2 separate regions of the Homo sapiens genome follow, and region 1 is linked to region 2. Evidence: fine-mapped QTL for protein levels in blood plasma. A gene starts in region 2. The other region holds a variant in brackets. All regions are shown on one strand. Distances are from middle to middle.

Region 1 (16,068 bases), 160 kb before region 2:
CTGGGACAAAACATGGACATCATAGGAGCTCCTAAAATAAGATAGTTTAAAAATTTACATGGAAAAATTCTAGCAAATACAAAAGTAGAGGGAATAATATAACAAGCTTGAAGGTACCCATGACCTGCATTCATCAATTGCCAGCAACATTTTTTTATCTATGCCTGGCAGTGGATTAAGTTATGTTGGCTTCCAAGAAAGAGAGGTCCATGTCCAAATCCTTGAGTCCTGTAAATGTGACCTTATTTGGAAAAAGGCTCTTTGCAGATGAGGTTAAGGAATTTGAGATGAGATCATCCTGGTATATCCAGATAGGCCCTACATCCAATGACAAATGTCCCTGCAACGTAGAGAATAGAAGACACAGACACACAGAGGGTGAGGTGCTGGAAGCCCCAGGCAGAAAGTAGAGTGATGTGGCCATGATCCATGAAAGTCCAGAAATGCCAAGAGCCGCCAGAAGCTGTAAGAGGCAGGGAAGGATTGTTCTCTAGTACTTCCAGGGGAATGTGGCCCTACTCACACCCTGACTTCAGACTTCTCGCCTTCAGAATTGTAAGAAAATGCCTTTCTGATGTTTCAAGCCACCCAGTTTGTAGGAATCTGTGACAGGAGCCACAAGAAAATGATACAAACTCCCACATACTCCCTCCACTACCAGGGGATTCTTTTCAAGCAAATCCCAGACAGCATATCATTTCGTCTGTAAATACTAGTATTCATCTCTAGGAAGGAAGAACTTCTTTTCTAAACATAATCACACTATGATTGTGTTTAATATGATAATCTCTTATCATATTAAAATTCTATAATTCCCTAATTTCATCAAAGCTTCAGCATTCTAGTTCATGTAAGTGTCCCATAAAAATTTCTTAGCAGTTTGTTTATTTTGGTCAGCATGCAAGCAAAGTCCTTACAAAGCATTTGAGGGATATGAGTCCATTTTTTTTAGAAATTAATGAATGAATAGAGACAGGCAGAGTGTGTGGGGGTTTGTGAGTTCTCAAAGCCCAATCTCATATACCCAGGTTCTGGAGTTGCATAGAGCTGTGCATGGGTCTGTGCAGATGTCATTGTCCATTGGTGATGAAGCACTGGGGATCCAGCAGGCCAAGCCCCACACCACGAGCTCACAGTACAGGGGAGCAAACACAGTGGCCCTCAGGTGTTATTAGAGGTGAAGGGGTGGCCTGCCCCTCCACAGCTGTGGGTATTTCTAGTCAGGTGGGATGAGAGACTGAGAAAAGATATAAGACACAGAGACAAAGTATAGAGAAACGATAGTGGGCCCAGGGGACCAGCACTCAGGATACCAAGGACCTGCACCAGCACCGGCCTCTGAGTTCCCTCAGTTTTTATTGATTATTATTTTCATTACTTCAGCAAAAAGGAATGTAGTAGGAGAGCAGGGTGATAATAAGGAGAAGGTCAGCAAAAAACGTGAGCAAAAGAATCTGTGTCATAATTAGGTTCAAGGGAAGGTACTATGACTGGACGTGCACGTAAGCCAGATTTATGTTTCTCTCCACCCAAACATCTCAGTGGAGTAAAGAATAACAAAGCAGCATTACTGCAAACATGTCTTGCCTCCCACCATAGGGCGGTTTTTCTCCTATCTCAGAATTGAACAAATGTACAATAGGGTTTTGTACCGAGACATTCAGTTCCCGGGGCAGGCAGGAGACAGTGGCCTTCCTCTATCTCAACTGCAAGAGGCTTTCCTCTTCTACTAATCCACCTCAGCACAGACCCTTTACGGGTGTTGGGCTGGCGGATAGTCAGGTCTTTTTCATCCCATGAGGCCATATTTCAGACTATCACATGGGGAGAAACCTTAGACAATACCCCGCTTTCAAGGGCAGAGGTCCCTGTGGCTTTCCACAGTGCATTGAGCCCCTGGTTTATTGAGACTAGAGAATGGCAACGACTTTTACCAAGTATACTGCTTGTAAACATTTTGTTAACAAGGCACGTCCTGCACAGCCCTTGATCCCTTAAACCTTGTTTTCATACAACACATGTTTTTGTGAGCCCCAGGTTGGGTCAAAGTGGCTGGGTCAAAGTGGCTGGGGCAAAGCTACAAATTAACAACATCACAGCAAAGCAATTGTTTAAAGTACAGGTCTTTTTCAAAATGGAGTCTCTTATGTCTTCCCTTTCTACATAGACACAGTAACAGTCTGATCTCTCTTTCTTTTCCCTACAAGAGGCTCACTGGGGCTCTGTGGAGGGCAGAGGACAGCCCAGTGCTCCTGGGAAGCAATGAGGTAGTGTTAAGTGTGTCCACTGGGAAGGAGCTTGCCAGGTAGGGGTAGCAAATGCACCCAGGCAGGAAGGCAAGAGGCCTCACCATGTTCAGAGAGTTGACTGGGCTGAAGATCAAGGAGTGAGGACAGGTGTGAGGATGGATTTTATATGCAGTCAGGATTCCCTGAAGAATTCTGTGATTTTTTTTTTCCAATTTGCATTTTAGAAAAACTACTCTGGTTGTAAGTGGAGAAGAGACTAGAGCAAAGTGAAGCTGCAGGTAGGAAGCCTGTGTGTCTGTCTGCTCCCTCAACCACCTCTGCCAACTTGGGGAAGCTCCCTCTAAGAGGAGGAGAGCTCAAATTGCAGAAGCCCAGGTGTCCTGGGAGAGATTAGCATTACAGGACCAGTATGGGGGTGGAGCTAGAAAGCACTCCTAATCTAAGCACTCTGGCACAGTGACACACCAGGGAAAAATGATTTTGCATATAGTTATTTGTATGTAATTCACATATACCATCTGTATCTTGGCAGCCCAGGTCTGAGTGGCACTGAGGGAACTGAGAGAAGGCTTATGCCTGGGACCCCATGGAGGCTTAAGGAGCAGAGTGAGGATAAGCCAGGACCACATGCACTGTAAGAGACAACAAGGTGGCCTGAGAGCAGAGGGTGGGTCTGTTTGCTCTTCAATATTTCCTCACCTCCTAGAAAACGGAGGAATCCACAGCAGACAGAATCGTTGTTTTGCAAATGCATTAGAAAGAATGCTTTTATCAGAAATAAAATGACTGTTCAGGAAAAGAAGAAAATGTCTTTATGCCATTATCCAGGATGGTAACTCTTCTCCTGTGCATACCTGAAAATGTCAGAGGTGCATTTTTACATTGGCATTTTAATAGATTGTATGACAAATTGTATGTTACAGGGCAATTCTTGGAAAAGTCAAACAAACCACATAATTTATAGTTTCCATTTTTACTGAATTTGTAATTCCAAGAAAATTGTTGGCTAGGAGGAGATTGGAAAACTGAATTCACATCAGATCCTAATGAGAAGAAATCAATTTTAACTAAGTGGGTGAATAGGAGTTGTATTATTTAATTAGCATATAATTTGAAAGAGTTCATTAGCTTCACAACAGGCACAATCAACACTTAGGTAAAGCACTTAATTGTTGCAAAACTTTAGAATACTGGTCTTGCATGTTCTTGACCTCTATGGCTGGTTTATTAAAACCTGAAAATCTTCCTTGATTCTTCTAAAGATTTCTCATCCATGGGAGGCTTCCTTGGGCTGCCAGGCTGTAGAAACTTCTTCACTGTGGGCAGGTTACTGATTCTGGTTTTCAGGGCCTGTAATCCACAAAGCACAGCCTCACTAAAACAACAAGTCAAGGGCTGACACCCCCATTAACATGACCCAGGGAATCTGAGTCCCTCCTGCCAAAGACCAAGTGAGTCGCTTCCACTTGGGTGAAGGCAGAAACAGACACCCAGTGAGAAAGGAAGATAAGAGGAAGAACATGTAGCTCACTTTATTTTCCCCAAAGATGTCTTGAAATTTTAATCAGTTCAGTCATCCCTATCTTTCTTCTTACATATTAATCCTATAGATTAGTGACTCTTGTATAAGACAAGAAAAACTAATGTGCTTGTTTGATATCAGCACAGATCAGTCTCTAAGCAGAAGTGAAAATATGGGAAAATGAGTTGGAAAGGAAAATGTTATAGAAAATAGTAAAGACAAACCATGGGACCACCTTTTCTCAGTGAGAGATACATTGTCGGGGGCAGAGTGCTGGAGAGCTGGGCAGAGAGGAACAAAATGTCTGACAGCAGGAGCCGGAGCCCAGGGAGGAAACCAGATGGAAAGGGCTCTGCTCAGACTGACTCAATGTGGGCACATATGGGATAAAGGACATCACAGAGAACTCAGGAACAGAAACCACACTGAAATAGAGGGATGGGGAGACATGCTGGGCCCTGGGTCCTTTCCATAATAAAAGGCAAAATACTCTTTGCGGGGTAGCATGCACTACAAATTTCCTTTCCATAACAAAAGTGTTTTCATTCCTCAAAATTGGAGCCTGGAAGCTCATTTTGGAGACCTTGGGGCACCAAAGGCCTGGAGAAGGCTGGGGTCAAAACATGCTCAGTCCCAGGGCCCAGATACAAGATCCCAAGATGGGAGATGTGGGTCTGCCTCTCTGAAGACTGTGAAATGGGTCACCTTCAGCAGAGGGAAGCTGGAAATAAGGCTAGAGTCAAGCTCTTCCACGTAGTAGAGAAGTTCCACCAGGTGAATGTCAGCCCGGCTCAGCTTGTTGCCAACAAGGTAGTCTTGTCCGTGGCTCTTTAAGACCTGGAGAATGGGAGGAATCAGATCAGGAACACATGCCCACCCAGGCTGGGACCCCTGCTTCTTTCAGAGCCTCTCCACCCTGACTTTCCCCACCTCTGTTGCCTTACTGCATGGATGCAGAAATCCCGAGCTTTCTCCACATTATCTGAATGAATGAGATAGTAAGAAGTGTAACTGTACTCACTCCTCAGTTGGAGCTCAGCCTCCCATTTTCTCTTCTCATCCACATCACTGTGGCGTCTACACTACCCACCCAGCTTGCTTCTTCCACATGGGCCAAGGGCTTAGCACCTGCCGCCGCATGTTCTGTCTGCCCCAGGCCCTGCAGTGTGGAGCCCTCACATTCAGGATGTGGCTCTACATTCTGCTGTCTCCCGCTCCAATCTCCCTTGGGCAGTGACTCCACCATCGTGACAACACTCTTCCCCCAGAAGGAGACTATTTCAGAGTCCTCATTTCTCCTTGTCTGTTCTCCTCATTCCCTGCTCTATCTCCCTGAGATCTGTAGGAAACCTGGGTGAACCTGAATTCATCATCTTTTTTACAGCATCGACTCTGGTTCCTAAATGGCACTATGTTATAATCTGCAAGCTGAAGCGTTTAGGAGTGAACTGCTCTGATGTCTGCAACTTACTATAAAATGCATTTTACAGAATCTTCCTCTGCATCCCACAGTCACTCTCCTTTTAAAAAATACTGATCCCTGAAACACTGCAATATTCTCTGGTTGGGCAATTGGTCTCCTGTCTTCCTGCATATGGTGCCAGAATGTTTTCTGATGGATCACTTTCATCATGCCCCTGTTCAAAGTCCATGGGGTTCCATAGACTGAACAGCAACTCTAGTGTGGTCCAGAGCCTTCCACAGCCCACATTCTACTTATGAACACAAAATTCTGTTGAACAGATAATTCCATATTGGGGTTCAGTAAATTAAAATTTTACTGGAAGATTATAGCTTGGGTATAAGTGATACAATTGTTTCTCCAAGTCTATTTTCATAAAATGCCTTGAGAGTCAGAGTGCTGCATTGGTGTCCAGGAAGTATCACTGAAAGTGAAGATCAGTGCCCCAGGAATGCCCAGCCACTATTTTTCTACTGGCTTCTAAACTCAGTTCCCCAAAACACTGAACAGCTTCACTTACTTTTTCAAAGGCAGGGAAGTAGCGATTTTTTGTTTTCTCTTGGATCAAGGCAAGCTTGGCATCTTGTTCCTCAGGTTGACTAAAGGGCAGAAGAAGGATCATTTCACCCAAATCTGCTATACCTTCTATATACATATCAATCCTGAAAGACAAAAACAACCAAATGGTCAAATATCTTTTGCCTTAGATTTTATAGGTTTATAAAAACCTAAGAGAGTAGAGTATCAGGTGATGGCAAAATAATTCACCTCCAATGAGTGCCTTTTATAGTCTAGTCATTATGCTCTGAGTTTTACAGGTATATAGTCATTATGCTCTGAGTTTTACAGGTATATTAACATTTATTTCTTAAAACAGCCTATCAAGGTAGATAGCTCTCTAAATTTTGTTACACGCATGACCTAATACAGGAAGAAGATCATCGGTGGTCACAGTCATGAGAGAAATTGGTGGAATCACTGCCAGTACCCACTGATGCTGTGCCAGGATTTATCATCTCCATTGTGGTTTGTTCTGTGCATGAACTTAGTGTGAGTCAAATGGCCAAAGACCTGCTTCCTAAGTAATCCTAAGAGAGTCCCTGGCACAGCCATCTCAGCCATATTCCTTGTCCTCTCTCATCATTTTACAGCTCCCAGGGCTGCTTCTATGCCCCATATTTGCAGTTCTTCCAATTACACCCATGAAAAACGTTTCCACAGCCCTCTCCATGTGCTGTTGCCCAACTCTAGCCATGTGTGCCTTTCTTAAGAGCCAACCCCTTCCCTGGTGAAATTCTCTGTACAGTTACAACCGTGCAAACTTTTCTTCTTTTGTGTCAAACTGGAGTTTCACAATACTTTTTAAAACAAGAGCTTTACTGATGCATATTCACATACTATAATTGCCACCTCTTATGTTATACTATTGAGTGGTTTTCAGTGCATTCACAGAATTCTGTAAAAATAATCACAGTCTAATTGCAGAATTATTTTTGTCACCTTGATAAGGACATCTGTACCATTAGCGGTATTCTTCATTTTTCTCCAAGCCCCACTCCTTTAGCCCCAGGCAATCACTAATCTACTTTCTACCTCTATGGATTTGAATATCTGGACATTTCATATTAAAATAATCCTATAATATGTGGCCTTCTGTGTCTCGTGTATTTTATGTAACATGTCTTTATGGTTTAACCATCTTGTAGCATGCATTCGTACTTCATTCCTTTTCATGACCAAATATCTTTCCATTGCATGGCTAAGGCGCATTTTTCTCCTCCATTTATTGATTGATGGATATTTGGGTTGTTTCCACTTTTTGAATTCTATGAATATTGTTATTTGCATTATTCACTTATGTAAAATATATAGTGTGGATGTATTTTCGATTGTTTGGGGATATACTTGTTAGAGGAACTGCTGGGTCATCGGTAATACCATATTAAAGTTTTTGAGGAGCTGCCAGCAGTTTCATTCAGGATTTATTTGGAATCATGCAGTCTCATCACAACAACAAGGAGACCCCTTGGCTTTGCTGGTATTGAATCAATCTGGCTGTTTCGGCCTTCTATCCATGTGTCAAGGTAACTCCAGTATCCTTGGTGCCAGCCTCTACTAGCCCTGCTCAAGTATTCCAGTTGATATAATTGGTTGGTAATTTAGGTTCCTGTTCATCATACTTGGAATTACTGGGACCTTAGACTTGGTTTCTTTGCAGCTTTCCCTCCCCAGTCCTTCATCTACAGACTCTCACATATTCTATGCCTGTCCTAAGCCATTGGCCGGGGTCCAGCCTCTGAAGTCCTGAGCACCTGGAAACATGATTCCCCATCCTCCTCAGTTCATTGGGTTTATGAGAGTTTGGAAACCTTTGTCAGGGTGCTGTGTCCATGGACTGCATCCTCTTCTAGAATCACCCTCGCCTGAACCCTCCCCATGTTCACTGTTCCCTCATCTCCATGGGACTCTGCAATACTGGACCTCAGCGTGCATGCCCAAGGCCCAGCCTGCTGCTGGTCTTGATACCCTGCCATGGTCCCACCCACTCAAGGAAGGACCTAAATCACTCTATGTTCTCTGTGGATGGAAGAACAGAAAATATACCGTACAGGGCTTTCTCCTTTATGTCTTTCCCATAGAGGTTGTATTTGCTGGCAATGTAGTTGAGAATGGCTCTGGTCTGCACCAGCTTCATCCCATCAATCTCAACCATTGGCACTTGCTGGAACATCAAATATCCATCTTTAAGAGGAAGAAAAAAAAGGAGAGTGAAGTGTCTATGAAACCCACCATTTCAGGATGAAAAAAAATGGTTGTTGAAATGACTAAATTTGTAAAACGAAAAAGAAATTACTGCCTGGTAAGAGTTCACTTGAAACAACTTTTTTTTTTTTTTTTTGAGGCAGAGTATCATTCTGTTGTCCAGGCTGGAGTGGAGTGGTGTGATCTTGGCTCACTGTAACCTCTGCCTCCCAGGTTCAAGCGATTCTACTATCTCAGCCTCTCTATAGCTGAGATTACAGGCATGCACCACTGCACATGGCTAATTTTTGTATTTTTAGAAGAGATGGTGTCTCACCATGTTGGCCAAACTGGTCTCAAATTCCTGAACTGAAGTCATCCACCTGCCTCAGCCTCCCAAATTGGGATTACAGGTGTAAGCCACTGCACCCAGTCCAAACAATATGTTTATAAAGCTTCCTGTAGTTCTTCTTTTTCTTAAGAAGTTTCCTTTTAGTTTTTATCCATTTATTTCATATATGTTTTTGTTGCCCCTCCAGATACATAGTGGGACTCTTGAATTTTTTGTGTTGATTTATCTTCATGGATATTTTAGGAAGAGGTTGGGACAAGTTACAATAGTACTGGCAACAAGATGTCATTTAAAACAGGATGTTCCCAGAGTAAGTCTCATGGTGTTTATGATATTTAAGGCAGGTTCTGAGAGGTTTTTATATAAGGGTCCCTTTCTGTGCTCTTCAAAGTCTGCGATATTGCTACAGTGTTACCCAGTCCCACTCCCCCCATGAAAGAAAAAACTCAAGACAGTGGCCACATCTATTCCTCCTCCTTTTGTCTAATGCATGTTCTTGCATGTGCTTGGATGGAGAGGGCTGTATGGGATCCTGTGCTGATGACCACTGCTCACTCACAGTACCCCAAGCATGAAAACAAAGAAAGGGCTTTCTCAGGGGTGGGAGATTGTTCCTCTAGCAAATACTCTGAGAGGTCTGGTCCTTTAAGCCTGGAGAGAGTTGCCAGACTTGCTCAAGGAGCCACATCCCTTCCATTTTAACCACTTTCTCCCTCTGCACCATGTACAAATACCATGCCCCACACCCATAGACATTGCCGGCTGCGCAAACCTCCCCGTGTACCTTCTACTAGATACCCTCATTAGAGAAACTTAGAGGTTGATCTTACCATTTCTTAACTTGTCCAAATCTTCTGCAGATTTTATAAATTTCTCTTCAAACTGGAAGCAGAAACAGTAAATATGTTCTTGTTAGTTCATTCTATTATAGACCTGTGAAATTGAATGGCCTCTATCTGGTGCATCATTTGGAGAATATAAGATTTCTGAGTTTGGCAGGGTACACAGAGGGGGCTAGTCATGGCCATTTGGAAATTTAGACCTAATTCATTGAGAAAAGTGCATGGGTCACAGCACATAGCTGCTCAATCTTCTAGTTCACTTCACCTCCACCTTGATATGAATGTCTATGATTAGGTCATGTTTTGAGAGGGACATCACTGGAGAAAAGGCACTGAGCAGTTCTTCTAGTTATGGTGTTGTCATA[T/G]CTTAGGAAAGCCTGTGTCTCCAAGTGAGATCAGACCACAACCTTGTGTGTCCCCAGCATGAGGCATGACATGGGCTAATGGCCATCAAATATTCTGCCACCAAGGAGCCTCTGCTGTAATTTGTATCGCCCCACTTCTCAGGAACCCTGCTAAGGGTGACATAGGTCGCCACTGTTGCACAGCTTTCACACTTGCAACTGTAATTTTCTCTTCTGAAGTACGTGAGACACAATAGGGTAAAATTCTCAATTTAATAAAGGAATTAGGGTCCCACACTAGCATTATTTTTAAGGAAAACCTCTGGTTTCTGATGTGGTTTTGTGGCATTGGGGAATGCTTGTGTGTTCTAGAAGCCTCCTCCCCTCATTTTAACCACGTGTTTATTTCTCTGCATCCTCATAGACACGTAGGCTGCCCCAGGGCAGGGACTGTGTCTGTCTTGTTCACTATCTCCATGACCGAGTACAGAACCTGGAATTAATAAGTGCTCAAGTAAATAATTGCTGTGAATGTAGTCAATCTTTAATAGGTAGTTTGTTACAATCCACTCCCTTCCATCTCTCATTTGTAGTTTGCATTTTACCTCTAATTACAATCATTTTTTAATATTATGCATTTTTATTTTTTTATTGTGGAAATTATGAACATGAATAAATATAAACAGAAAAGCATAATGATTCTCCTTATACTTCTCACCTAGAATCAATAATTATCAATCAAAACCAATATGGTTTCATCTATATGCCCACCTACTTCTCCTCTTGTAATAATTCCAAGGAAATCCCAGATCCATATGATTAATCCTTAAATACTTCAATGTGTTTTCCTAAAACACATTAACTATTCTAAAGACAGCCATAGTACATTATCACACATGAAATATTAACAATAATTATTTCATGTCCTCAAATATTCAATCGATATTTGTGTTTCTAATTGTTGTATAAATGCCATAAATTATTTTTTACAGTTTGTTTAAATTCTAATCCACTTAAGTTCTGCACTTTGTGATTAGTGTCTTAAATGTATTTTAATATGTATGCTTTTAGAGGAGAAGAAATTTTAAGAATTAATAGGTCAAATCTGTTCATCTTTTTCTTAATTACAGTCCCTTTTTATTTAAGGCACAATGCTTCAGTTAGTAATCATCTCATAGTTTCTGTGGGAAAAGTATGTGATAACGCAATCGTAAATCTGACTTAAGATGACCTAACTCAGAACCTACCTCTACTCCAGCTGCAGCCAGGAGCCACCGGATGGACTCCATTCTGCCCCGTATATTGGAGTAGTGGAGCTTGGGCTTCTCTGCCATGGTAGCAGTCTCCTGGAGGTTTCTCTAAGCCTGAGTGAATGAATGAATGAATGAATGAATAATTGAAACGATAGAATCAAAAATGTACTTTAGGATGTATGGTTGAAAACCACAAACAATGCTGAAGAAGAACCTGCCTTCTTCATGACGGTGTTGGAGGAGTTCCCGGAATGTTTTCTTGGCTCAAATTATTACCCAGCAGTGGCCACCCTCAGATTCCAGCAAACCAGTCTCAAGTTTTCACTGTTTAACTCTGAATTTTCTTGGCAGCCTAAGAGGTGAGAGTATGTGGTAATAATACATGTATAGGAGTTAATGGGAAGAGGAAGAATTCAAGAACTAATATTTACTGAAAACTTCCTAGTGATCCTTCCTCAATGCTAGTCCCTTTCAATATTTTATATCTTTAACCCTCCTTATAGTCCCATGAAATGATTATCTCCATTTTTTCGTTAATGAAATGGAACATCAGAGAAATACAATGTTCACAGTCACACTCCGGTTGGTGATGGACATGAATATCTACACCAAGGACTAAAATGAAATCATGCCTGGAAGCCAGCTGGGTGAAGGCCCTGGGAACCCATGAACTGGCCATGAAACCAGAGGATGTCACTGACAGGGAGGACCGGCTGGGAGCTAAATCACTCTTCAGCTCTTTGGCTGTGAGACTGCATTTGATCAAAACCAGAAATTAGGCCTCAGACTTGTTTAACTGTAGCTAGAAGATCCAAATTCTTTCAAGAGACAGAGATTGTTTATCCCTTGCTTCTTTTGGAATTCTGTATTCTAACTCTATGGGGTGCATTTTGTTTTATAAGCTGGAAGAAGAGATGTTGCTGCATTAATTTTGCAATATGGAAGGAGCTAGCATTTGTTCAACATCAGTCACACACTGATCATTCTTCTAAACTTCTCTTTGTTTTATCCTACAAAAATTACCTAAGGTTAATGTGGTTGTTATTCTCATTTTACATTTGAGGATACTGAGGTTTTTAAAGTAACTTGCTCAGAGTAAATGATAGATCTGGGATCCAGGGTCACTGCTATTAAAAACCAAATACTGAGTCTTATTTTCTATGTTAGTGTTTCTCAAATATGCATGGTAATCTCTCAGCAGATTGTGAAATCCCATTACTTTAAAAAATAAATAGAAAAGAAAAGAATAGAAAATATCAGTGAGCATGACATGTTGAAAGGTAAGTAATGTTTCATGAGTTGTTAGTTTCAGTTATTTGTATACTGTGTGTATGGATCTTTGCATGTGTGCATGCTCACTTGGTCATTGTAAATGGTTAGAGACTGGGCTTATCAGTGAAATTTGATAGCCCTTGCTCTATGCCAGGCTGTTTGGGTGGTGGAATGTAGCAGAGTATCAGAGAATGAAAACCAGTGGCTGCAGAGACAGATGCAACTAATTGTATCATGAATGTGAATGGAAAGACACAGGACTCATTGAAAGAAGGAGTTCCAGTGCCAGGACTTAGGAATAGTTGCGTTTTATCACCAAACCCCCAGCTCTGTTATTAAACATTAAGATTCTTCTTGCAAAGTTTTGTGGTTGTTGAGTGTGGAACAAAAATATACTTGCCTTTAACAACTAATGTATTTATTTGTTTTTTTTTTTTTTTTTTTTTTTTTTTTTTTTTTTTTTGAGACAGAGTTTTGCTGTTTTTGCCCAGGCTGCAGTGCAATGGCGCGATCTTGGCTCACTACAACCTCAGCTTCCCAGGTTCAAGTGATTCTCCTGCCTCAGCATCCTGAGTAGCTGGGATTACAGGCACATGCCAGCACACCTGGATAATTTTGCATTTTTAGTGAAGACAGGGTTTCAGCATGTTGGACAGTCTGGTCTCGAAAGTCTGACCCCAGGTGATCCACTCACTTCAGCCTCCCAAAGTGCTGGGATTACAGGCATGAGCCACTGCACCCAACCTCAACTAATGTATTTCTAAAAAAGTATGCATGATTAAAATTAGGCATCAAAATCTTTTAAATGTCTACATTTTAAAATATGGGAGTCAATAGTTTAACCTTTGGAAAGTAAAGAATTCTTTGAAATCATACTGAATCAACTCACCTGTTTTGTAATTAGATATTTTGACATTGTACTTTCTATGATAACTCCAGGAGTAAATTAAAGTAACTTGGGAAATGGAAATAGCATAATTCGACAGAATGAAAGGGAGAGTGAAGTTCACATGAAAGCGTAGGGTGTGCTTGTTTAATTGTTATGTACTAGAGTTCACAGTGTCATAATTCCAATCCCCAAAATAAACTCTCTTAGCCATTGATCGAGGATCATGTTTCAAAAGGAAGTGAAATTTTATCTTACATAATATTTTATCACAACACTCCAGCTGATAATTAACATATCACTTCCTCAATGTGAGGTTTCCAAGGGTCAGGCTAAGACTGAGACATAAGTTACCATTGAGCTTTGTTGGGTCAACAGAAAATGAGAACCAGAGAGCTCAAGGATTTGCCATGGGTCATACACACATGCTCCTCATTCATAGTCAATATCTAGGGAGTGTGTTTACCTTCTGCAACAACCCTGGGAAATGGCTCCTATTATCCTAATTAAAGATGGGTACACTGAATTTCAGAGAGCTAAAGCACCTGTCTCATGCTGCACACGTGGTGAGTGTTGGGTCAGCCTGAACTTCTGATTGCAGGTCCGGAGCTTTTCCACTCCACCTCATAACCTGGCTCTCAGCTCCTGTCTGAGAAGTTGTTTTGTATTTTCCTATTCAATGTATATTAGCCAAATAAATGTTGGAAGGAGAGGGCGAGAGGGGAACATCTAATTCCTGAGTTCCTCCTGTTAGCAACTTTTCAGGGGCTTGCTTGGAAGAAAAAACTAATAAAAGTGTGCCTTTCTCTACTTTGACAACCTAAAAACCAGAGTGAGTTGAGGACTAGTGTAATTACTTTACATCAATAATTAATTTACATCAATTAAAAAATGGGCTTGTTTTGAAAGGACTATAAGGTCTCATATTTCCAGGAGTAAATTAAAGGAGTTACGTCTCTGAGGTTGTCCCAGTGACACTGTTTCTTATCAGAGAGAAGGGAGAATGAGATAAACCATGACTCCTTCCATTATGAGATTCATAAATGCAGTAGGTTGTTTAATCTCTGAGCCTCAATTTTCTCTTCTTAGATTAGAGATAGTTATTTCTACTTTTGAGGGTTGTTGAGAAAGTTAAATGAGATAATGTAGAAAAAAATCATAGTAGGAACACAGGGTGTTTGCTCTTGTCCCAGTGCTTGGAAGATGGGTGAGGCTCTGGACACATTGAGTAGCCCATGGATCTTCTTTCTTTGATCTATCTATCCACCAATTATTTTACCAACCAACAATCTATGTACATGTATCTGTTTATAATCTCTGTCTACCCATCCATGTATGTATTATTTTATCTATCAATCGTTCTATGTATCTATCTCTCTGTAATCTGTCTCTTCATCATCTATTATCTATCTTGTATCCATTTCTCTGGTTCTCTATATTTTGTCCGTAGAACTCTAGTAGGAATAAGATTTTATATGAATCCAGACTTATATCAAATCTGTCATATGATGGCTCTCTGTTTCTCTCTCTCTTTGCTTTTTAGCTCCTGTACAGAGGTCAATGATATTCACTAATCAGCCCACCTGGATTAACAGGAAGTTTTCAGTGAATGTCCAAGCAGTGGGGCACATCGGTAACACAGCCTTGCTTAGCCCCATGAGGTCATGTAGTCCCATGGTTCTCAACCAGGGGGATTTTGTTCCTCTGCTCCAGAGGACATTGAGCAAGGTCTAGAGACATTTTGGGTTGCTATATCTGCAGAGAGGGAGGGGGGCTACAAATCAGATAGGTAGAGGGCAGGGATGTGTGGGGAAAAGAAAGAGAGATCAGACTGTTACTATGTCTATGTAGAAAGAAGTAGACATAAGAGACTCCATTTTGTTCTGTACTAAGAGAAATTCTTCTGCCTTGAGATGCTGTTAATCTGTAACCCTACCCCCAGCCCTGTGCTCACAGAAACATGTACTGTGTGGACTCAAGGTTTAATGGATTTAGGGCTATGGAGGATGTGCTTTGTAAACAAATGCCTGAAGGCAGTATGCTTGTTAAAAGTCATCACTATTCAGTAATGTCAAGTACCCAGGGACACAAAACACTGCGGAAGGCCGCAGGGACCTCTGCCTAGGAAAGCCAGGTATTGTCCAAGGTTTCTCCCCATGTGATAGTCTGAAATATGGCCTCGTGGGAAGGGAAAGACCTGATAGTCCCCCAGCCCGACACCCATAAACGGTCTGTGCTGAGGAGGATTAGTAAAAGAGGAAGGCCTCTTTGCAGTTGAGATAAGAGGAAGGCATCTGTCTCCCGCTTATCCCTGGGCAATGGAATGTCTTGGTGTAAAACCCAATTGTATGTTCCATCTACTGACATAGGAGAAAACTGCCTTAAGGCTGGAGGTGAGACATGCTGGCGGCAATACTGCTCTTTAATGCACCAGATATGTTTATGTATGTGCACATCAAAACACAGCACATTTTCTAACCTTGTTTATGACACAGAGACGTGAGTTTGTTCACGTTTTCCTGCTGACCCTCTCCCCACTATTATCCTATTGTCCTGCCACATCCCCCTCTCTGAGATGGTAGAGATAATGATCAATAAATACTGAGGGAACTCAGAGACTGGCGCCAGCGCAGGTCCTCCATATGCTGAGCCCCGGTCCCCTGGACCCACTTTTCTTTCTCTATACTTTGTCTCTGTGTCTCTTTCTTTTCTCAGTCTCTCATCCCACCCAACAAGAAACACCCACAGGTGTGGAGGGGCAGGCCACCCCTTCAGGGATGCTTAGAAATATCCTAGAGTGGGCAGGACAGATCTCCGTTCAAAGAATTACACAGTTCGCAGCAACAGTCAGAGCCTCTTTCTTAGCTATTCTCTATATTGGCCATGAGTTGGTAGTACTCCAGAGACAGAATATGACTTGTCGTCGAGCTAATTAGTGGCAGAGGCTCAACTAGAATCTAGTCCTCCTAACATTCAAACTAATTTTTTCTAATTATAATAAACCTTAGTTTTGAATTTTCACAGCCAATATAGAATTACAGTGTCACAATTTACAATTGTGTGTTGACTATATATATAAAGAAATTTTTGCATACATTGCCACTTCTTCCAGCACTGATTATTCTCAGATTGTTTAAAATGCTA
Region 2 (16,068 bases):
CCTTGGATGGGGAAGGCTGTGTGGGATCCTGAGCTGATGACCTCAGCTCATTCACGGTGCCCCAAGCATGAAAACAAGGAAAGGGCATTCTCAGGGCACTGGGGATGGTTCCTCTAGCAGATACTCTGAGAGGTCTGGCCTTTTAGCCTGGAGATAGTTGCCAGACCTGTTCAGGGAGCCACATCCCTTCCACTTTAACCACCTTCTCCCTCTCCACCACCACAGCTACCACCCCACACACACATAGGCATCGCCTGGTGTTAAAATCTTCAACTGTGGCCGGGCACGGTGGCTCACACCTGTAATCCCAGCACTTTGGGAGGCCGAGGCGGGCGGATCACGAGGTCAGGAGATCGAGACCATCCTGGCTAACACGATGAAACCCCGTCTCTACTAAAAATACAAAAAAAAAAAAAAAACTAGCCTGGTGTGGTGTCTGGCGCCTGTAGTCCCAGCTACTCGGGAGGCTGAGGCAGGAGAATGGCATGAACCTGGGAGGCGGAGCTTGCAGTAAGCCGAGATCATGCCACTGCACTCCAGCCTGGGCAACACAGCGAGACTCCGTCAAAAAAAAAAAAAAATCAATCTTCAGCGGTACCTTCTCTACTAGATACCCTCATCAGAGGCACTTAGAGACTTGATCTTACCATTTCTTAACTTTCCCAAATCTTCTGCAGATCCTATAAATTTCTCTTCAAACTGGAAGCAGAAACAGTAAATGGGTTCTTGTTAGTTCGTTCCATAGCATTACAGACTTGTGACCTTGAATGGCCTCCATCTGGTACATAATTTGGAGAACATAAGATTTCTGAGTTTGGCAGGGGACACAGAAGAAGCTGGTCATGGCCGCTTGGAAATTTAGATTTTATCCCTCAAGAAACAGGCATGGGTCAGACCATGCTCATGCTCATGGGTCTGACAATGGGTCAGAACTGCTCAATCTTCTTTTTTATTTTATTTATTTATTTATTTTTTTGAGACAGAGTCTCACTTTGTCGCCCAGGCTTAAGTACAGTGGTATGATCATGGCTCATTGCAGCCTTGATCTACCAGGCCCAAGTGACCCTCCCACCTCAGCCACCTGAGTAGCTGGGACTATAGGCATGCACCATCACATCCAGCTAATTTTTTATTTCTATTTTGTAGTGCTGGGGTCTCGCTGTGTTGCCTAGACTCATCTTGAACTCCTGGGCTCAAGCAATCCTCCCCTATCGGCCTCCCAAAGTGCTGGGATTAAAGGTGTGACCCACTGCTCCTGGCCTGCTCCGTCTTTTACTTCACCTCCCCACGATCTCACAAATGTCCATGATTAGGGAGGGAACGTCACTGGAGGAAAGGCACTGAGCTGCAGAGCTGATGTCTGGGTGACAATGAAACAGGGTATTCATTTGTACACAGAAAACAACCTGGAATGGAAGTGTGTGGATTTCTTGTGTGCTTATTTCCTCATAGGTTTGAGAAAGGTGAGTCCCAAGCCCTCGTGAAGCATTGGAGAAAGTGCCGCCCCGAGGTTCAGGTCCACACAGCGCTGTGAGGCTGAAGGGGCGCGCTAGAAGTTCCTTTCACAGGACGCCACCTCACCTGAAACCCTCCTTTTCTGCTGACACCCGAGGGACAAGATCTTCTGAGTTTTTCCATTACTTACTCTGGAGGAAAACCCTCAGGCAGTTAGTTACTGAGGGACTCTGGTCTGGACTGGGAAGTGTTTTTCTCAGTGACACCTCTAGAAGGCAGCACTTAGCGGAGTCCCACAGACACCTCCCAGCATTTCCTGCTCAAACACTGGGAGGATGGCCTGGTAACACTGGGGAATGCCTGGGTGTTCTAGAAGCCCCCACCCCTGATTTTAACCACGTGTTTTCTTATCTGAGTCCTTGTAGACATGTATGTAGTCTGCCTTAGGGCAGGAATTGTGTCTACCTTGTTCACTGCCAATCCTCAGGACAGAACCTGGCACTTAATAGGTGCACAACAAAATAACCACTGGCTGAATATACTCAGTATTTAACAGGCAGTTTGTCACAATCCACTCCCTCCCTGACCTCATTGTGGTTTATAGTTTATGTTTAATGACATTTAGTTTCCATGTACTTAGCATTTTATTGTATAAATTTCTCATATATATAAAAAATACACATAAAATACAATGGTCCTCTTTGTTTCAATCATCTAGCTGCAGTAATCACCAACCCAAGCCTGTCTTTCATTTGTATGCCCAGCTTCTCTCCTCCTCTGTCATAATATGAAACAAATCTGAGGTATCATATTATCTCATCCTAAATACTTCAGTGTGTATCTCTGAAACATAACAGAAACATCATACCTAACATCACAAAATGACACTAAAAAATTTAACAGTAATTCTTTAATATTATCTAACATTCAATCAATATTCAGGTTTCTAATTTTTATGTGTCATAAGTTATATTTTATAGTTTGTTTAAATCCTAATGCAAATAAGGTCCACTCATTGTGATTAGTTAATTCTTTTCAAAATATATTTTAATTGTTCATGTGTTCTTTTTCATGTGCTCTTTAATGGACAGATTTTTAAATTTTCATTTGGTAAAATTTGTCCATTTTAAAAAAATAACTGGGGATGCTTTTATTTGAGGCCAAAATATTCACAGGTCATCTAGTATGGAAGTCTCTTGGCTTACTAAAATATTTTGATACAGTCAATTAGGTCCAACTTAAGATGACCTAACTTAGAACATACCTCCACTCCAGCTGCAGCCAAGAGCCACCGGATGGGCTCCATTCTGCCCCGTCCATTGAAGTAGTGAAGCTTGGGCTTCCCTGCCATGGTAACAGTCTCTTGGTTTCTCTAAAATGAATGAATGAATGCATGAATGGATGAATGAATGAGTCTAGAGAAGCAAAATGCACGCTAGTATATGAATGGTTGAACAACAGGAGTGTCTTCCTTCCTCATAGCAGGATTGTTTCCACCTCTGAATTCTGTTTGCACTAGACAGGTCCAACACCAATGTGACTTCACAGGGTCCCTCTGAGATTCTGAGGCTTTCCTGTGTAAGACCTTTGTTTTCATTTATTTATTTTTATGTTGGTAATTATTCCAGGCACTACTGACTTGCATTATGTTCCAACCTAGTTGGTGACTTCATGTGCCTTATAAAAACTATATGTTCTATTGATATATCTAGTTCTCCCCTCAAGAGTTCCCAAATTATTGAGCTAGAAGGGATCTAGCTAGCCCTTCCTCCAGGTTTGTAATGAATATGTTGAACCCCAAAGAAAGTATGTGCAATTTGCCAACTAGCTAGTTAGTGTCAAAGTCTGGATTAGAACCTAGGTCTTCTGACATTCAGACTAGTTTCTTCCTGTTATGCCTCATTATTGACTATTTACAGCCTGCAGACGTTACCATTTTTAGCTACCAATGACTTTCTTCACAGAATTGGAAAAAACTTCTTTAAAGTTCATATGGAACAAAAAAGAGCCCGCATCATCAAGTCAATCCTAAGCCAAAAGAACAAAGCTGGAGGCATCACACTATCTCACTTCAAACTATACTACAAGGCTACAGTAACCAAAACAGCATGGTACTGGTACCAAAACAGAGATATAGATCAATGGAACAGAACAGAGCCCTTAGAAATAACGCCGCATATCTACAACTATCTGATCTTTGACAAACCTGACAAAAACAAGCAATGGGGAAAGGATTCCCTATTTAATAAATGGTGCTGGGAAAACTGGCTAGCCATATGTAGAAAGCTGAAACTGGATCCCTTCCTTACACCTTATACAAAAATCAATTCAAGATGGATTAAAGACTTAAACGTTAGACCTAAAACCATAAAAACCCTAGAAGAAAACCTAGGCAATACCACTCAGGACATAGGCATGGGCAAGGACTTCATGTCTAAAACACCAAAAGCAATGGCAACAAAAGCCAAAATTGACAAATGGGATCTAATTAAACTAAAGAGCTTCTGCACAGCAAAAGAAACTACCATCAGAGTGAACAGGCAACCTACAAAATGGGAGAAAATTTTCGCAACCTACTTATCTGACAAAAGGCTAATATCCAGAATCTACAATGAACTCAAACAAATTTACAAGAAAAAAACAAACAACCCCATCAAAAAGTGGGCGAAGGACATGAACAGACACTTCTCAAAAGAAGACATTTATGCAGCCATTAAGAGCATTTATGACATGAAAAAATGCTCACCATCACTGGCCATCAGAGAAATGCAAATCAAAACCACAATGAGATACCATCTCACACCAGTTAGAATGGCAATCATTAAAAAGTCAGGAAACAACAGGTGCTGGAGAGGATGTGGAGAAATAGGAACACTTTTACACTGTTGGTGGGACTGTAAACTAGTTCAACCATTGTGGAAGTCAGTGTGGCGATTCCTCAGGGATCTAGAACTAGAAATACCATTTGACCCAGCCATCCCATTACTGGGTATATACCGAAAGGACTATAAATCATGCTGCTATAAAGACACATGCACACGTATGTTTATTGTGGCACTATTCACAATAGCAAAGACTTGGAACCAACCCAAATGTCCAACAATGACAGACTGGATTAAGAAAATGTGGCACATATACACCATGGAATACTATGCAGCCATAAAAAATGATGAGTTCATGTCCTTTGTAGGGACATGGATGAAGCTGGAAACTATCATTCTCAGCAAACTATCGCAAGGACAAAAAAACCAAACACCGCATGTTCTCACTCATAGGTGGGAATTGAACAATGAGAACACTTGGACACAGGAAGGGGAATATCACACTCTGGGGACTGTTGTGGGGTGGGGGGAGGGGGGAGGGATAGCATTGGGAGATATACCTAGTGCTGGATGATGAGTTGGTGGGTGCAGCACACCAGCATGGCACATGTATGCATATGTAACGAACCTGCACATTGTGCACATGTACCCTACAACTTAAAGTATAATAATAATAAATAAATAAATTAAAAAAAAAAGAAGTTACCATTTTTATGTCCCCCACCCCTCAAACTGTGAGCTCCCGGGAAGCAGAGAAGTTGTCATAGTCTTTAAGCACAGTGTAGTGCATTGCTCAAAGTTCAGTCCGTGCTTTATAGGATATAACATGGCTAGATATCTCAAGAGCAATCTTTTTTTTTTTTTTTTTGCCATTTGCCTATAGCGCTCACTGTTTTAGACTACAGTAGCATAGAGTAATTAAAAAACAAACTAGGGCTGGGCATGGTGGCTCATACTTATAATCCCAGCACTTCGGAAGGCTGAGGAGGGAAGATTGCTTGAGCTCAGGAGTTCAGGACTGGCCTGGGCAATTAAATAAAGTCTCTATTTAAAAAAAAAATTAGCCAGGATTGGTGTCCCACACCTGTAGTCCCAGATACCCAGGAGGCTGAGGCAGGAAGATCACTTGAGCCCAAGATGTTAAGGCTGCAGTGAAACATGGCCACATCACTGCATTCCAGCCTGGGTGACAGAATGAGACTGTCTCAAAACAAACAAAAAGCATGAAAAAAGCCAAGCTAGGATTATGGCAATAAAATAACCAATCCTAATTATGAAACCCACCAATCTGCTGTTTAAAAAGAATTATCAAAGCAACCAAACTCTCCCACATAGTAGAAACATCGTGACTACACAAAAAATATTTTTTTTTAATTGGATAAGTGCTTTGGCAGGGTAGCCCAGGGTAATATTTCATTTGGCAAATAGAAAGAACTTGCATATAGAAGGAATGTGCATGTTCTGTTGGACAGGGAATATAACAGCTTAAGAGGGGGTTATTATTATTCTTAGATCTACTTGCCTACTACCCTAAAAGTCCTATATATTTAGATTCACTTGCAATTTTGAGACTTTAAACCCTGCTCACCCTTTGGTCCCAGATACTTCGAACAAGAAGGAGGAGGAGGAAGAAGAGGCAGAAGAGGAAAAAGAGGAGGAGGAAGAAGAAAGAGGGCAAAGAGAACAAAGAGAAGGAGGGAAGAAGGAGGAGAAGAAGAAGGAAAAATAGCATGCTGCTTGGTGCTCAATCACAAAGTCACTTATATAAGCAGTAAACTAATCTGTGTAAAATCAATGATGGAAGTGTAAATTTAGATCCTGATTGTCAAGCATTGGTGATTGGTTTCCCATTTGGAAGTGCCAGCTCTAGAGGAATACGACCATCCAGATGTATTTTCTTTTCATTGATCAAGTGGTGCTCCCAAATGTGTGACCCTGCCAGCTTTAAATCTAGTATAATTGTGTGTTGACTCCTGTGAATCACAGGAATGAATCACACGAATACATGTTTTTAATAAACAGCTTTTCCATAAGCAACCTTTGGCATGTGGCCTGGCACTGATGTGGTTGTATTTTCAGATTGCCCACAATGATACCACTCTTACTTTTCTCATATCATCAAATTCTTTGCCCTTGTTTTCTAAATTGTTGAATATTATTTTTCTTTACCGACCTGTCCTTCAGGAACTAACAAACAATGCTTAAATTGTCTCCTAAGCACACAGAAAAACAGCAAGAACATAAAGTACTCACACAAACTAACACATTTAAATTTGTTTTTCTTAGTGAAGTAGACATGAGAACATTTATGAAGATGTTTAAGGTCAATACTAACTTGAGTAAAGTCTAGCCGGTCTCCGCTCAGCTTCTCAAGGCCACCTCCTGATGTGTATGTTAGCTGTTTTAATACTATGACAACTCCTGCCTTCTGAAGGGGGTGGAGTCTAGTTGGGAGCAGCCACTCCCACACCACTTTAGTCTCCAGAGTTCCATGATCTGCTAGGAAGAAAATGACAGCAATTAATTTCAAGGCTATCCATAAATGCACAAAAAGATTTCATATCTATTTGGCTGCCTCAGAAGGTCACTGGGGACCAAGTATCCTGTGAACACTGCTTAAGGAGGATCTTGTTAAATAGGCTGCAGATTTATGACAGATGAGAAAACATTGTGGGGAGAGGAGGAAAGTGTCATAGGAGAGTCATAGGAGATGTCAGGAAAGGGGACTTGATAAAGAGCATAGGGAGATTGCCTTCTAAATTTGTTTAAAAAGACTAAATTACAAATAATGTCACAAAATTTTATAGGCCCAAAGAATCTGGCTGAGTTGTCCTTGCCCTGGGCAGACAAAAGACCTCAGCTGCATTCCCCGAGGTCATTTGCAGATTTTTCTCTGTGACTTACCAGTTAGCCTTTCTCCCTAGCCCAAGGCTCTGCATGCTGTTTCTCCTATTTGGAGCACTCTTTTCTCCCCTGCTCCAAGGCATCCTGTGCTTCCTCTATCACATCACTCTTTCTACATTCCGTGCATCATGTCTGCTTTCCCCCTGTTGAGTATGAGCTCCTTGAGGCAGGGCCTCAAGTCCTGGTGGTTAACCAAGTCCCCGTGGCTAACCACAGTGCCTGGACATAGAAAGGGCTTAATACACGTATATGTAATTTCTACTTTTCTAAAGGAAATTGTCTGATATACATAAATCTGGAAAGAACACTACAAAGCCTTGATGTACCCATCACCTTGCTTCAAAAATTATTGACAATATTTGAAGCAAATCTCAGACTTAGTTTTTTTCCTCTATAATCTAATCTGTATCTTTTAAACTTGTGGGTGGGGGAGTTATTTATGTAACAGAAAAATTGCAAAACTAGTACAAGTTTCCCAAATACCCCTCACCCAGCATCCGCTAATGTTAACATCTTATGTAACCATAGTACAATGATTGAATCCAGGAATTTAATGTTGATACACTATTGACTAAACTCCAGGCCTTACTTGAATTTCACCAGTTTTTCAATCAGTATCTTTTTTCTAACCCAGGATCCCATCCAGGACCCCAGCACTGCATTTCGTTGTCACATCTCCTTAGTTACCTCCAAACTATGGCAGTTCCTCAGTCTTTTCTTGTCTTTCATGATGGTGGCATTTTTGAAGAGTAATGGTCAATTATTTTGTGGAATGTACCTCAATTTGGGTCTATCTGATGTTTTCTCATGACTCGATTGACGACATACATTTTTTGCAAAATGTCACAGCAGTTGTTCCAGTCTCAGCTGATCATTTCCACCCATAATTTCATATCCGAGACATGGTATGTCTTATTAATTTTGATCTTAACCTTAATCCCTTGATTAAAGTAGCGTCTGCCAGGTTCATCAACCGTAATATTACTATTTATCCCTTTGGAATTCATAAATATCTTGTGGAAGATACTTTGTGACTATAAAAATAGTCAGTTTCAAAATAAGCTTCTGCTCACTAACTTTAGCATCCATTATGGATCTTGCCTGCAGCAAATATTACTGTAGTGTTTGTCTAATAGTGACTTTCTATTTCCCTCATTCCATCTACATTTAATAATTCGAATTCTTCTGTAAAGAAAAGCTGTCTCTTCTCCTTTATTTATCCTTCCATTCATTCAATTATTTTCTTAGTACAGATTTATAGATATTTTATTCTAAAGGTTACAATCTAATACCATCGATATCTATTTTATTGCTCAAATTGATCCACCTTTAGCCTGTGGGAGCTCCTTCAGATTGGCTTCTGTGTCTTTTATGGCAAACCTCCTCTCTTATTGTGAGCATTTCCAGATACTTTCTGTGCCAAAGATGTTCCAGGCTTATCTTGTCTTGTCTGTGTCCCAGCCTTGAAGTCAACCATTTCTCCAAAGATCCTTGTTTCCTTTTATTGGGGAAGGTATTTGAAAACTAGGATCTCGGAACTATGTGTACTCATTGCTTCTGGGTTTTCAATGCTTCTAGGCTCTCCCCAGTGGGAAATATATGTATGTATATTAACCCACACATACATACACTTCTGTATGTATTTATATAGCTATCTGTATAAATATGATAAAAAACCATGAGTTCATACAGATACCTACTATTTCAATTCAATAGATTCATTTAGCCGTGTCCTTTCATTTCTAACCTCTCTGACAAGTGAGAAACCTGGCTATGATTATCTAAAATATACAATATTTGCATATTTGTTTAATCCTAGTACAAGTAAAATAGTTGCAGAATTGCCAATGCATACCTCTGTGAAAAACAAATCTACTAACAAGAGTACAGTATTTTTCTTTCCTTCTTTTTTTTTTTTTTTTTTTTTTGGTCTTAAGCCTTACAATATCCAGTCAAAATTGTGGTTTTCTGTGGTTATTTAGGTCAGTTCTTTTCCCCCCCACCTCCTTCAGTTTGGTAATCTATTCATTTGAAATGCTGTTAGGTTGTTAGTGTTTGTATATTCCACTTTGCGGTTTCCTTACATCCTGGTTGGTTTTAATTAATTACTTAGTTTTCTGGTATGCAAAACTTTACCATGATTCTAAGAGCCAGAGTTATATGAAAAAGTGTCTTTGGAGACACTGTCTCTCTCTGTCCCTAATTCCCATTCCTAGTCCCTCTTTTTCCCACCCATTTCTCACTCATCCCCCTGTAGACAACAAATCTCACTAATTTCTAACTTTCCCCTTTTGTTTTTCTTTTGCTCAAGTACATATTTCCTTACAACCCCTTCTTTCTTACATAAAGGGCAGCATACCATAATACTTTTTTGCTCTTTGTTTTGTGTGGTTGTTGGTTCCCCCACCCTTCACTTAATGATAGGTCCTAGAAATCACCACCATCTAAGTTCATAGATGTCTTCCTTTATTTGCTACAGCTGCAAAATACTCCATCGTATGAATGCATCATAGTTTATGCAAGCACTCTTTATTTATTTATTCATTTTTTTGAGACAAAGTCTCACTCTGTCACCCAGGCTGGAGTCCAGTGGCATGACCTCGGCTGTCGGCAACCTCTGCCTCCCAGATTCAAGTGATTCTTCTGCCTCAGCCTCCCAAGTAGCTGGGACTATGGACTACAGGTGCGCACCACCACGTCTGGCTAATTTTTGTATTTTTATTAGAGACAGAGTTTCACCATATTTGGCCAGGCTGGTCTTGAACACCTGACCGCATGATCGGCCCACCTCGGCCCCCCAAAGTGCTGGGATTACAGATGTGAGCCACCATGCCTGGCCTGCAAGCACTCTTGTATGTGTGGACATTTAGGTTGTTTCTAATGTTTTGGAATTACAAACAATGCTGCAATGAATAACACTGCATATGCATTTTAGTATTGCTGGAGGTATACTTTAGTATGTTTCTTTAAAATGTAAGTGCTTTTTTTCTGGACATCACCATTCTATTCTAACACTAAAAATTTATGTTTCTTAATTTTGTCAAATAACTGCATGCACACTTCCTCAATTGTCTCATAAAAATTTCTTTGCCATTGGTTTATTTTTGTCAGGACCCACGAAGTCCATACATAGAATTTGAGGGACATTTGTCAGTATGTTTTGCAGAAATGGATGAGATACAGAGTAGGGCAGAGGGTGTGGGGATTTGTGAGATCTCAAAGCCCAGCCTCATATCCTCAGTTCCTCAAAATATGCGTGGAGCTGTGCAGGTGTTATTGTTCATTGGTGGTGCAGGAATGGGGATCCAGCAGGCCATGCCCCACACCAGGAGGTCACAGGACTATTGTGCAGACACAGTGTCCCTCAGGTGTTATTAGAGGCTCACCAGGACTCTGGGAGGGCACAGAGGAGAGGCCAAAGCTCCCAGAAAGCAATGAGATAGGAGTTAGATGTGGCCAGTGGGAAGGAGCTTGCCAGGTAGGGCTAGCAAATGCACCCAGGCAGGGAGAAAGGAGGCCTTGCTGTTCCCAAGGGGCTTATTGAGCTGGAGATGACAGAGTGAGGACTGTGGTGAGGATGCATCCTGCATGACATGGAGACTCACTGAAGAATTTAAAGAAAGACAGTGATATTCAGATTTGTGTTTGAGCAAACCTACTCTGGTTGTAAGTGAAGAAGAGACTAGAGCGAAGTGAAGCTGCCAGCAAGGAGACCCACTGGGAGGACCCTGGGGTGGTGGAGATGAGAAACCATGAGGCTCTGACCCACACAGTGGAAGGAGATGGGACAAGGAAAGAGATATGTGAGGTAGTTAGGAGGTAGAGTTGACACGGCTTGTGTCCCATTCTGTGGGGGGTGTGAGGAGAGAGAGTGGAGAGTGTGTCCCGGTCACTGGTTAGGACTCCTATAACACAGGCACATCCCATTCATGGAGTGAGACAGGATGGTGTCAACTTCCATACCTGGAGCCAGCCCTGGGAAGAGCCACTCTGATCCGTTTTCCCCTGGGACAGCAATCCCTCCCACGTCTCTCTGAGATAGAGAAAGGTCTGGGCAACTCTAGTTGGGCACATTAACTCCGTTAGGTGTGGCCAGAAGAGTTTAGTGAAATCAGCAACTGAACTGCAGGGCAGGTTTCTGGGAAGATACTCTGCACAGACCTTTTTCCTGGGCATCAGACCCCCGATCCTGTACATCTGCCTTCTGGCATGTTCACCTACCCACCCCTCAGGCAACTCCAACTGACCCTGTCCCAAACTGAAATCAGGTTTCAAATCTCAGAGATTAAAGCTCCACACTGTTGGTCCACCCAGTTGCCCAGGCTGGAAATCTGCCATCAACCCTTACTCCCCCATCTCCCTGTGTGTCCTACCATTTCCTTCTCAATCTCTGTCCAGTCAGCAGGTTGCCCTCTCTTCTGGCCCCAGTGCTGCAGTGTTCTGCACACTGGACTTGGTGTTCTTGGGCCTTCTGCATGATTTTCTGGCTCAAAACCTTCAGTGAGCCATTAATGCCCTCAGGGTGAAATCCAAACTCAACAGAGTTTACAAAGCCCTGCATAACCCACCTTCTTTATTTGTCCAGCCTCATGTTGGCCACTCTTCCTCCCTCACCTAGCCATGCTCACTTTCAGACTTTCTAGCCCTCTTGCCCTCACTGCCTTTACTTTACTACCTGATTGGTTGGGTGTGAGCTAAGTTGCAAGCCCCGTGTTTAAAGGTGCATACACTCAACTTCCCAGCTAGGCTTAGGGATTCTTAGTCGGCCTAGGAAATCCAGCCAGTCCTGTCTCTCAGTACCCCTTCTCAACAGGAAAACCCAAGTGCTGTTGGGGAGGTTGGCTGATGACTGCTCTAACTGCTTCCTGCTGAATTGGGGCATACTAGGGGTTGTGCAGTTGAGATTTCTTCAAGAGGGGTGCCTTCAATGTCATTAACATCGAAGCATGGGCTAGCAGGCCAGTCCAGAGGTCTGCGGTAGATCTTAGCCATGGATTGCATCTGGGGCTCCATTTGAAGAACAATTTTTAGGTTTACAGCTTCGATTCTGGAAGAGACAAACTTAACAAGGCGGTTAAAGATATAGGGATTGAAATGTATGGCCTGCAGTGCAGGGGATTATTTCTTTGGCACACTTCACAGGCCCTGACTATCTGCTTGATAGTTTTGAAAAGGCCTGGTCCAGTAAATAATAATTTGGCCATCTGATGGGTGCTATCAATGCCTAAGTGAAAGGTTTGGTGAAGGGTTTTAAGTAATTTCTGTTGGTTAGCTGCAGGCAAAAGTATTTTTCCTTCTTCAGTGGCTAGCCATCCTGAGGGGAGGAAACTATGTCCTTGTGAGGTTCCCCATTCTATTTCTTCTTCTGAGTACTGGGGCTTCATTTCCCAGAAGGGATTACCCCATACTAGAAGTCTTTCTATAAGCATTTCTAATGGAGAGTCCTGCCTTGCAGCTCTTTTGGCTTCAATATCTGCTTGGCGGTTCCCTTCTATTTCTCTTTCCTTTCCAATGACCCTGGCAGTGTAAGACTGCCACCTGTTTAGGTTTCTGTACAGCCAATAATAATCTCCTAATGGCTTCCTGATGTTTGATAGGTGTTCCCTCGGAAGTTAGGAATTCCCTTTCTCTCCATATTGCTGTGTGGGCATGGAGGACTAGGTAAGCATACTTAGATCCTGTATATATGTTTACCCTTTCTCCTTCTTCTAATGCTAGTGCCCAAGTGAGGGCTATTAGTTCTGCCAGCTGAGCACTAGTTCCTGGAGTGAGGGGATTACTTTGAAGTATTCCATTATCACTGACCACTGCATACCCCGCTTTTTGAAGTCCTTTTTTCTACAAAGGAACTTCCATCAGTATACAAGTTGAGGTCAGGATCAGTCAAGGGAACCTCTAAAAGGTCCCCTCAAGTGGCGTATATTTGAGCAATTACTTGTTGACAGTTATGTTCTATCTTTTCTTCATTGTCTGGGAGAAATGTGGCTGGGTTAAGAGTTGCACAAGTGCACAGTCACAGCACTGGCCCTACAAGTAATAGAGCCTGATATTTAAGTAAATGGTTGTCTGACAGCCACAAGTCTCCTTTAGCAGTGAGTATGCCATTCACATCATGAGATGTCCACACAGTAAGATCTCTTCCCTGTATTATTTTAACTTCTTCAGGTACTAAGACTGCTACTGCTGCCACTACCCATAAACAATGAGGCCAACCCTTGGCCACTACATCAATTTCCTTACTCAGGTATGCCACAGGTTGCAAGCTCATCCTTCAGACCGGTGTAAGGCCTCCTAGAGCTATTCCTGTTTTTTCTGTGACATATAAAGAAAAGTCTTGCCCCATTGGCAAACTTAACTGGGGCTTGGTTTAGGGCCTTCTTTAGGGCCTGGAAAGCCACTTCTGCTTCAGGTGTCCATCTTACTAAATGGGCATTGGCTTTCTGAGTTTTCCTAATTAGTGTATATAATGACCTGGCTATTTCACTGTACCTGGGAATCCATATTCGGCAGAAGCCTGTTATGCCAAGGAACGCTCTTAGTTGCTTTAGTGTTTTGGGATAAGGATAAGCCAGTATAGGCTGGATACATTTCTCACTGAGGGCCCTGGTGCCTTTGGACAATTTTAGCCCTAAGTATTTAACCTGCTGTGAGCAGAGCTGAGCCTTTGGTTTGGAAACCTTGTAGCCACAGGTGGCGAGGAAATTTAAGAGCACTTGGGTGGCACTGGGCACGGTGGCTCATGCCTGTAATCCCAGCACTTTGGGACGCCAAGGCAGGCAGATCACAAGGTCAGGAGATCAAGACCATCCTGGCTAACATGGTGAAAACCCGTGTCTACTAAAAATACAAAAAATTAGCCAGATGTGGTGGTGGATGCCTGCAGTCCCAGCTAATTGGGAGGCTGAGGCAGGACAATGGCATGAATCCAGGAGGTGGAGGTGGCAGTGAGACGAGATCGCACCACTGCACTCCAGCCTGGGTGACAGAGCGAGACTCTGTCTCAAAAAAAAAAAAAAAAAAAGAGCGCTTGGGTGGCCTGATGGCACAAGGTTTCTGAATGGGCAGCTAAAAGTAAATCATTCATGTACTGAAGGGCAAGAGTGTCCAGGTATGAGAACTGGCTCAAGTCTTGGGCTAATGCCTGGCCAAATAGATGGGGGATACCCCTGAACCCTTGGGGTAAAACAGTACAGGTGAGTTGAGATGTTGGGTTCAAAAGATCTTCAAAGGCAAACAAGAATTGAGAGTCAGGATGTACAGGGATGCAGAAAAAGTCATCCTTAAGGTCCAGGACTGTAAACCACTCTGCTTCCTCTGGTATTTGGGAAAGCAGAGAGTATAAGGGTTAGGTACAGCTGGTTACAGAGGGACAACAGACTCATTGATAATCCTGAGATCTTGCACTAACCTTCACCGTCCGTTGGGTTTCGGTACTCCTAAAATTGATGTACTGCAGGGGCTATTGCATGGTTTTACTAGGCCTTGGGCTTTTACGTCCTTAACAATCCTTTGGAGTCCTTGTTGGGCCTTGAGTCTAAGGGGGTACTGCCTTTGGTAGGGAAAGGAGGTGGAATCCTTCAGTTTAACTTGAACAGGATGGGCATTCTTTGCTCATCCATAGTGTCCTTCTGTTGCCCAGACTTCAGGATTAATTCCTTCCTCAAGCAGGGAACAACAAACAGGTGTTCCTTCTCCTATGTTCAGGTGTATAATGGCCCCTGCTTTTGCTAGAATGTCTCTCCCTAACAAGGGAGTGGGGCTTTCAGGCATAATTAGAAAAGCATGTGAAAAGAGTGAAGTTCCCCAGTCACAACTTAGTTGCTGGGAGAAGTATCTAGTGACTGCCTGTCCTAGGACCCCTCGGATAGTGACAGATCTGGAGGACAGTTGTCCGGAACAGGAGAGTAAGACTGAGAAGGCCGCGCCAGTGTCCAGGAGACAGTTAACCTCCTGGCCCTCAATGGTCACACATACCCGGGGCTCTGTGAGGGTGATGGCATGGGCTGGCACTTGCCCCAGGCACCCTCAGTCTTGCTGCTGGATCTTCTGGTTAGTGGCTTCTGACTCAGAGGACCTTCATCCCCTGGGGCAGTAGGCCTTCCAGTGATTCCCTTGACATAAGGGGCATGGACAAGGGGGTAGCTTATTTCTACTTGGACAATCTTCTTTAAAGTGCCCTTGTAGATCACACTGGAAGCAAGCCCTATTAGGCATTTGATTTGCCCTTTCCAGAGCCTCCAAAGTCCGCTTGCCTGAGGGCTATGACTAAAGAAGTGGCCTTTTGTTTATCCCGTTTGTCCAATCCGCCTGCTCCTCCTGATCTCTATTATAAACAACTGAGGTTGCCAAGTTCAATAGTGTTTCTAAATTTTGCTCCAGGCCTAAGGCGGACTTTTGAAGTTTTTTTTCTAATGTGTGCAGCTGACTTAAAGGATAAACTTATCCTTTAAGATTAGTTGGCCTTCAAGAGAGTCAGGTGACAGAGAGGTATGCTTCCTCAATGTCTCCCTTAGTCTCTCCAGAAAGGCCGTAGGATTTTCTTCCTTTCCCTGTGTTATAGTGGACATCATTGAATAATTCATAGGCTTCTTCCTAGTTTTCCTTAGTCCTTCTAGCATGCAAGGTAGCAAATGTCTGTGGCACCAATCTCCATGTTCTGAATCTGTGTCCCAGTGTGGGTCTACACTGGAAACTGCCTGCTGGCCTGTGGGGAATTGTTCTCTTTCCTCTGTTGTCATCCTGTCATTGACCTGACGGAGATACCAGAGATTGCCACACTCTTGGGCTGCAGTTTTGGTGGCACTTCTCTCATTTGGGGTTAGTGTTTGATCTAGCAGTAACATTATATGTCTCCATGTCAGATCAAAAGATTGTCCTAACCCTTGTA

Which allele goes with the higher level. Positions count from the first base shown, and alleles are read on the strand shown. Strength reflects both the effect of a copy and how common the allele is.
For the plasma level of the protein whose gene starts at base 6,670 in region 2, allele T in region 1 goes with a lower level than allele G (strong association).

Evidence for each region. A credible set is the group of variants that fine-mapping cannot tell apart. PIP is the posterior inclusion probability: the model's chance that the variant is causal. The UK Biobank Pharma Proteomics Project read protein levels with antibody pairs (Olink). The fine-mapping took linkage between variants from a reference panel, not from the people measured, so its PIPs are less certain.
Region 1: its variant is the best candidate, but not a certain one, in a credible set for the plasma level of the GSTA3 protein (UK Biobank, PIP 0.90).

Annotation. Positions count from the first base shown.
Region 1 is chr6:52,747,101-52,763,168 of GRCh38, forward strand. It overlaps GSTA2 (glutathione S-transferase alpha 2), which reads right to left. Exons shown (of 7, transcript NM_000846.5): 2 at 10,761-10,877; 3 at 9,158-9,209; 4 at 7,843-7,975; 5 at 5,754-5,895; 6 at 4,477-4,608; 7 at 2,987-3,599. The coding sequence starts at 10,847. The coding sequence ends at 3,477. Among named protein-coding and RNA genes, the nearest start is that of GSTA2, 8.3 kb to the right of the region's middle. The variant T/G (reference allele first, on the strand shown) is at 9,535.
Region 2 is chr6:52,903,029-52,919,096 of GRCh38, forward strand. GSTA3 (glutathione S-transferase alpha 3) reads right to left here and starts at 6,670. Exons shown (of 7, transcript NM_000847.5): 1 at 6,613-6,670; 2 at 2,720-2,827; 3 at 648-699. The coding sequence starts at 2,806. It overlaps LOC105375091 (a long non-coding RNA gene), which reads left to right. Exons shown (of 4, transcript XR_926877.2): 4 at 1,453-2,726. RefSeq lists enhancers at 6,174-6,866, 6,867-7,560.